Linked DNA regions of Homo sapiens. The protein of the gene in region 2 interacts with the protein of the main gene of each other region in a biochemical or structural test. Each region holds a gene or a part of one and is shown on either strand. Other genes may lie near its edges.

Region 1 (3,749 bases), on a different chromosome or scaffold from region 2:
GAGTAGCTGGGACCACAGGCACAGCGCCACCACACCCGGCTAATCTTCTGTATTTTTGGTAGAGATGGGGTTTTTCCATGTTGCCCAGGCTGGTCTCTAATTCCCGACCTGAAGTGATCAGCCTGCCTCGGCCTCGCAGAGTGCTGGGATTACAGACCTGAGCCACCGCGCCCAGCCCATTGTTCACCGTTGTGACCCCTTTTAATTTTTATTTATTGCTTTATCATCTTACTGATTCCTCGAAACAATCTTACGGGGCGAGCCGGTTCCATGGGCGCTGAAGAAACATTTCCTCTTTCAAAGCCTCAATTGTTTGAACGATACGCGTTGCTAAAGAGGAAGCAATTAAACCTATCAGGCGAGTTCTGCCCTCCGCCCAGCGAGCTGCTGCTTCCTGGTGTTAAAACGCTTTCGGGGCCAGGCGCGGTGGCTCACGCCTGTAATCCCAGCACTTTGGGAGGCCGAGGCGGGCGGATCACGAGGTCAGAAGATCGAGACCATCCCGGCTAAAACGGTGAAACCCCGTCTCTACTAAAAAAATACAAAAAATTAGCCGGGCGTAGTGGCGGGCGCCTGTAGTCCCAGCTACTTGGGAGGCTGAGGCAGGAGAATGGCGTGAACCCGGGAGGCGGAGCTTGCAGTGAGCCGAGATTGCGCCACTGCACTCCAGCCTGGGCGACAGAGCGAGACTCCGTCTCAAAAAAAAAAAAAAAAAAAACGCTTTCGGGTTCTCCTGGCGAGTTTTAAGTCACACTGGATCGCTGCTTATTTTCAGAGATCACCTCGCACCCATGCACCTGGAAGGCACCCAAAGAGAATCATTTTAAGAAATTCACTTCATCTCACCCTAACAACAAAGCACAGCCTGCAGCACATGGATTTCACCCATGTGACATCAATGCTAATCCTATGTGTGAAACATCTGGGTTCATTCGATTTTTTAAAAATTAGTAACTGAGATGGGGTCTCGCTATGTTGTCCAGGCTGGTTCTCCAACGCCTGGGCTCAAGCCATTCTCCCGCCTCGGCCTCCCTCGGCGCTGAGATTATAGGCGGGAGCCACCGCGTCAGCCTCCACTCTTTTTGCGGCGACAAAGCCCGCCCGCCTGCGGGGCGTTCCGTTCGCAGAAACTCTGTGAGGGACGCCGCGGGGGCTTCCAAGGGACGCGGCGAAACCAAAACAGTCGCCGGTGGTTCACAAAACCACCTCAGAAAATGCTTCCAAAGGCACGTCTGGCCTCCACAAGGTGACGGCTTTTCAGCCTCCGACTCGAACTTGAGTCGTCCACAGCACTAGGCCGCCGCCAGCCCGGGCGAGCTGCCTAGGGACCGCGGACGCCGCAGCAAGCAGCTCCCTGCTCCCGCCACACCCGCCGAGCCAGCCGCGCGGAACCCACTCCCCCACCGTGGGCCCGCCTCCCGCCGCCAGCCTGCCCACGATTGGTCGACTGGGCTGCCCGTCGCGAGAGAAGGCGGTGCCTCCGGCAGGCCGGCGCTCCCATTGGCCGGGATGGCGGCGGCGGCGCGCGCGGCCCCGGCGAGCAGGGGAAGCCGGTGGCCGCGGCTGCGGAACGGGCGGAGGCTGCCGGTTTCGTAACCGTCGCTCCTCCTCGCTGACTCGCGGGCTGTGAGGCCTGGGTCGGCTCGGGCCGCACCGCGCGGGGCCGCTCGGAGTGGAGGCCGCCTGGGGGCAGGCGGGCTAGAGGAGCAGGTAAGGAGGCTGCGGCGGGCGCCCTGAGAACGGGGAGGAGGAGGCCGCGGCGACGCCGGCCGCTCGACTGGGTGCGGGCCCGGCTCGGGGAAACCCAGCCCCGGCCCCAGACGGCCCGCTGGCCCGGGAAGGCCACGCGAGGCTGGAGGCGCGGGCGGCGGCGCCGCGCGGCGTCTGATGCAACCTGCCGGCAACACCCGGCGGGGACGCTGAGCTCATTCCTGGCCGCGGCCCAGCGCTGCGGCGCCGCCCGTCGACCCCCGCGCTGCCCGGGGCGCCCCTCGCGGCGGGCCGGGAGCGCGCGAACGGCCGGGGAATGCCCCCTGCGGAGCCCGGCCCCCTCTCGGTGAAACGGGCGCTGTGACCCGCCAGGCTCGCATTGGCCCCTGGGGATGAAGGGTGTTCCCAGAATAGCAGAAGGTGGACCGAGTCGAGCTTTAGAATCCTGATCTTCTAGAAGGGCTCAGCTTGCGGTGATCGAAAATCTGTTCAGAAGTTCAAAGACTGATCAATAAAATAGGGAAAGCAACTGGTTTTTAAATGCATGACTTTGCAGAGATAATATTTTGCTTCTTTGTGGAGCTGTTGGAATGTCCTGCACTTTACTGTTGAACGTAGTTTAGAAGAACACGCAACACCTACGGGTCGAATAGAGAAGAAATGAAGCACTTCGCAGGCATAGTTGGAGGGAGCGGAGCAGGGCCGACAGCCAGCGGAGGTGACCAGATGCGAAGGATGGAAATGCATGTGTCGCGGGGGGAGGAGAGTGTTTTCCAGGGCAGCTGGTGTGTTGCTTCTCTTCCGCAGGTTTACGTGTTGGGTTTTCCTCTTGTTTGAAGTTTATACTGTAATCTGGCATCCTGAAATGTATAAGATTTAGAAAGGTCTCAATGTTGATGGGTGACACCAAAATTGGTAGTTGTGTCAGAATTGACTGCTTATATGAATAGGTTGTCACTTAAGGCAGACTTCTCCCAAAGAAATGTGACTCCCAGAGAAAATTTTAAAAGAAAATCCTATAAGGGCTTGCTTTACGAAGACATTCTACACCTAGAAGCTCTTGATATTTAAGATGTGGTCATCTGTTAGCCCTTGAGTAGTATTTGGGATAAGCTGTTCATAAGGTCGATTCTGCTTCTGGAAAAAGTTGCTGTAAACAAGGCTAAATAATTACAGGGTACAAGGGAGCTGAAGCATATTTCAGCTTCTTGATTCCTGCTTTTGGTGGGCACACTTGGCTGGTTCAGTTATTTTTAATACCTGCTTTTAAAAAAAGTAGATGGAAACAAAACTTCATTGAGAATATCCTTTAAATTCTCAAGATCACATCATGTCTGTCTGCAAGGCTGTCTGATCTTGGAGAGATGGTTTCATCCCTGGGAAATTAAACACTATGTGCTGAGCCCCTGGTAAAGACAAATAGGACCTCGTGGGGCTGAATTTGGTCTCGTGGTCTAAGATTGCCTCACTTGGTCACAGTAATGGTAAATACAGGTAGCCACGATTCCAGCTGTATTGTGCGTTCTTGGGAGGGTTGGTTCCATGGGTTGTTATATTGATAGGTACACTGGCCTCCTGCGTTTGTGGCTTTCTAGCTCTATCAGTAAAAAAAAGACAAAAATGAGCATGACCTCCTAATGGATGTTCATTTACAAATAGTCTATTTGTTTTGTGTGTTGTAAATCACTTCAAAAGGATTGGGTTAGAAAGATGATGTTGATGTTCTTCTAATGCTCCAGTGACCCACTTCTGTACTCCCAGAAAGGGGACGTCCCCTTCCTCATGGACCCTGCGCTAGATGCTTGTGAAGATCTGCAGGGAGACACGATGCGGCTGGAGTTGACAGACCTAGGGAACAAATTTTCCCAGATGCCCAAAGAAAAGAGAAAGCACAGACCATTTAGGATACAGATAGTGGTTTAGTACTGTCAAGATGTGGTGTGAGGGAGGAGAGAGGGTCAGGACCTTGGATTTGATCCTGTAGACTGGAGCCAGAGATGAATTTTCACCAGGAGAATGACTCACTCAGGTTTGAGTGT
Region 2 (3,649 bases):
GTAACTATATCACCAATTTTAAACATCTCTACTTAAATTTTAATTTTAATATGTACTTCAGGGTGCATTCATTCATTAAGCAGATATTGATGGAATGTCTATTCTGTGCCAGTCACTGTTTTTCATGCTGGGGATATAATAGGGAACCAAATAAATTAGATTAAATCCCTGCCCTTGAGGAGCTTATATTTTAGTGGGTGAGACAGACAATAAACAAGATAAATAGGTAAAATATATGACATGTTAGATAACAGTAAATGTTAGAAGAAAAATAAAACAGGGAAGGGTAATATGAAATGTTAGCAGCAGGATAGAAATTTTAGATTAGGTGGCTTTTGAATAAAGACCTGAAGGAAGTGAGGGAGCTATATGCATTTATATGGAAGAAAAGTACTATAGGGAGGAGGATCAGCAACTGCAAAGATGCAAAGTCGCAAGGTACCTGGTACATCTAGGAACATCAAGGAGGCTCAGCTGGAGTTGGGGGTGGAGAGTAGTTGGAGACAAGTAGGGGACGTAATAGCAGCATTTTATGTAGGGTCTCATCAGTCATGGTGAGGATCTCAGCTTTTACTCCACACTGGGGGCCATTAGAGGGTTTTCAGCAGAAAAGTGATATAATTGATCTGACTAGGCTGGGCGCATGCCTGTAATCCCAGCACTTTGGGAGGCCAAGGCAGGCGTATCACCTGAGGTCGAGAGTTCGAGACCAGCCTGGCTAACATGGTGAAACTGCTTCTACTAAAAATACAAAAAATTAGCTGGGCGTGGTGGCATGCGCCTGTAATCCCAGCTACTTGGGAGCCTGAGGCAGGAGAATCACTTGAACCTGGGAAGCGGAGGTTGCAGTGAGCTGAGATGGTGCCATTGCGCTCCAGCCTGGGCAACAAGAGGGAAATTCCGTCTCAAAAAAAAAAAAAAAATTGATCTGACTTACATTTGAACAGGACATCAGGGGTACAAGGGCAGAAGCAGGCAGTCCACTTAGGGGCTGTTACGGTAATACAAGCAAGGGATGACGGTAGTGAAAGTGACGAGAGCAGGCTGAATCCAGGATATGTTTTGAAGTTAAAGTGATGAGAGCAGATGGGATGGTATATATGAGAAAAAGAATAAAAAATTACACCAAAGTTTCTGGCTTAAGCAACCACAAGAATGAAGTTGTCATTAATTGAGATAGGGTAAAGTGTAGGGGAAATGGTTTGGGAGGTATATCAGGAACTCAGTTTTGGACAAACTGAGTTTAAGGAGCCTATTAGGCTTACAGGTGGAGATGTCAAGCAGTCAGTTGGTTATATGGATTTGTAATTCAGAGGAAAGGCTGAAGATAAAACTCTGGGAGTCGGCAGCATATAGCTAGTTTTGGTTTTGTTTGGTTTGGGATTTTTTGGAGGCAGGGTCCACCTCTGTCTCCCAGGCTCTCAAGTGATCCTCCCCACTCAGCCTGAGTAACTGGGACCACAGGCGTGCACCACCATGCCCAGCTAATTTTTTTTTGTTATTTTAGAGATGATGTTTTGCCATATTGGCCAGGCTGGTCTCAGACTCCAGGACTTAAGGGATCTGCCCGCCTTGGCCTCCCAAAGTGCTGGAATTACATGTGTGAGTCACCACACCTGGCCATAGTTAGTTTTTAAAGCATTGAAACCAGATGAAGTTCCCAAGGGAGACAGCAGAGCTAGAAAAAGAGAAGTCCCAGGAATGAACCATGGGGTACTCCAACATTTACAGTTCATAGAAATGAGAAAGAACCCACAAGAGACTGAGAAGAAACAACCAGGAAGTGAGGAGGAAAACCAGCTACAGAGCCAAATGTGGTATTCTGTAAATCAAAATAAAAAAGTGTTTCAAGAAGTTCAGTGATTTTAAATCCTGTTGCTCGGTGGCTCACGCCTGTAATCCCAGCACTTTGGGAGGCTGAGGCGGGCGGATCACGAGGTCAGGAGATCGAGACCATCCTGGCTAACACGGTGAAACCCCATCTCTACTAAAAATAAAAAAAATCAGCCAGGCATGGTGGCGTGCATCTGTAGTCCCACCTAGTTGGGAAGCTGAGGCAGGAGAATCGCTTGAACCCAGGAGGCAGAGATTGCAGTGAGCCAAAATAGTGCCACTGCACTCCAGCCTGGGTGATAGAGCAAGACTCTGTCTAAAAAAATACCAAAAAAACAAATCCTGTTGATGGGCTAAAGAGGATAAGGACTGTTTATCAGTATATAATCTATATACGGTCAGTTTTCCACTTAGTCCCTGCAAGAACTCTGATACATAGTTAATCCATTAAACTACTTATTCTTTTTTTTTCTCCTGCCTCAGCCTCCCGAGTAGCTGGGACTACAGGCGGGCACCACCACGCCCAGCTCATTTTTGTATTTTTAGTAGAGACGGGGTTTCACCATGTTCCCCAGGCTAGTCTCCAATTCTTGGCTTCATGTGATCTGCCCACCTCTGTCTCCCAAAGTGCTAGGATTACAGGTGTGAGCCACCGCACCCGGCCTTACATATTCATTATAGCAAAGATGTATTTAGTTCCTGCTGTGTGGTATAGATATTATGTAAGTACCTGACACATGATGAATAAGACACTGTCACTACCTCTGAGAGAATCATAGGGTCATATAAACCTGTGGATGAGGTAAGGATAGATATCCCAGTTAAAAAGCCCCTAAACTGGGAGCTTCCTAAGGATAGGGTTCCCGTTTTCTTCTCTGTGTACCCATGCCTGGTACATGGATGATGCTCAGTAAAATGTTTGATGAATATATGCTGTGAAAACACAAAGAATAAAACAGTTAATGTACTGAGGGTAACAAAGATGGCTTCACAGAGGACGCAATATTTGAATCTTTTTTTTTTTTTTTTTGAGACGGAGTCTCGCTCTGTTGCCCAGGCTGGAGTGCAGTGGCACAATCTCGGCTCACTGCAAGCTCTGCCTCCCGGGTTCACACCATTCTCCTGCCTCAGTCTCCCAAGTAGCTGGGACAACAGGCGCCCGCCACCATGCCCAGCTAATTTTTTGGTTTTTTTTTTTTTTGAGTAGAGACGGGGTTTCACCATGTTAGCCAGGGTAGTCTCGATCTCCTGACCTCCTGATCCGCCCAGCTTGGCCTCTGAAAGTGCTGGGATTACAGGCGTGAGCCACTGCGCCCGGCCATATTTGAATCTTAAAAGAAGACTCAGGCATTCATCAGGATGTCAGAAATACAACTGACTATGGAACGTTTGCCTTTTTTCCACATATTTCTGTTTAAGCAGCCATAGAGGCTATCCGATGTTTAATAAAACTCCTTGACTTGCTGAGTGTGATGACTCATACCTGTAATCCCGGCAATTTGGGAGTCTGAAGCAGGAGGATGGCTTGAGGCCAGCAGTTGAAGGCTGCTGTGAGCTGTGATTGTGCCATGGCACCTCCAGCCTGGGTGACAGAGTGAGACCCTCTAAAAAAATTTTAAAAACATTTGACTAATGAGCAACATGGAGTTACCATTGTATGTAGCTCAGGTAGTTGTGTTTAGTAGTAAAATGTTAGTGTCACTTTAGGTGGAGTGGCATAACTTATAATGTTTTATAATCATTAATGCCTAGCTAATTTTTAGTCAGGAGGGTCTTAAGATTTCTTTGTAGTTTTACATGTTAACTGAACCCGGGC

The links.
Region 1: the proteins of ATF7 (region 2) and CEBPG interact in a test that uses a peptide from one of them, tested with the Homo sapiens proteins (one large-scale study listed by IntAct).

What each region holds. Positions count from the first base shown.
Region 1 is NC_000019.10:33,372,186-33,375,934, forward strand, and holds the start of CEBPG (CCAAT/enhancer-binding protein gamma), read left to right. Parts: upstream 1-1,523; 5' UTR 1,524-1,710; intron 1,711-1,927; exon of another isoform or gene 1,928-2,428; intron 2,429-3,749. UniProt on the Homo sapiens protein: Transcription factor that binds to the promoter and the enhancer regions of target genes. Binds to the enhancer element PRE-I (positive regulatory element-I) of the IL-4 gene. Binds to the promoter and the enhancer of the immunoglobulin heavy chain.
Region 2 is NC_000012.12:53,518,268-53,521,916, reverse strand, and holds part of ATF7 (cyclic AMP-dependent transcription factor ATF-7), read left to right. Parts: intron 1-3,649. UniProt on the Homo sapiens protein: Stress-responsive chromatin regulator that plays a role in various biological processes including innate immunological memory, adipocyte differentiation or telomerase regulation.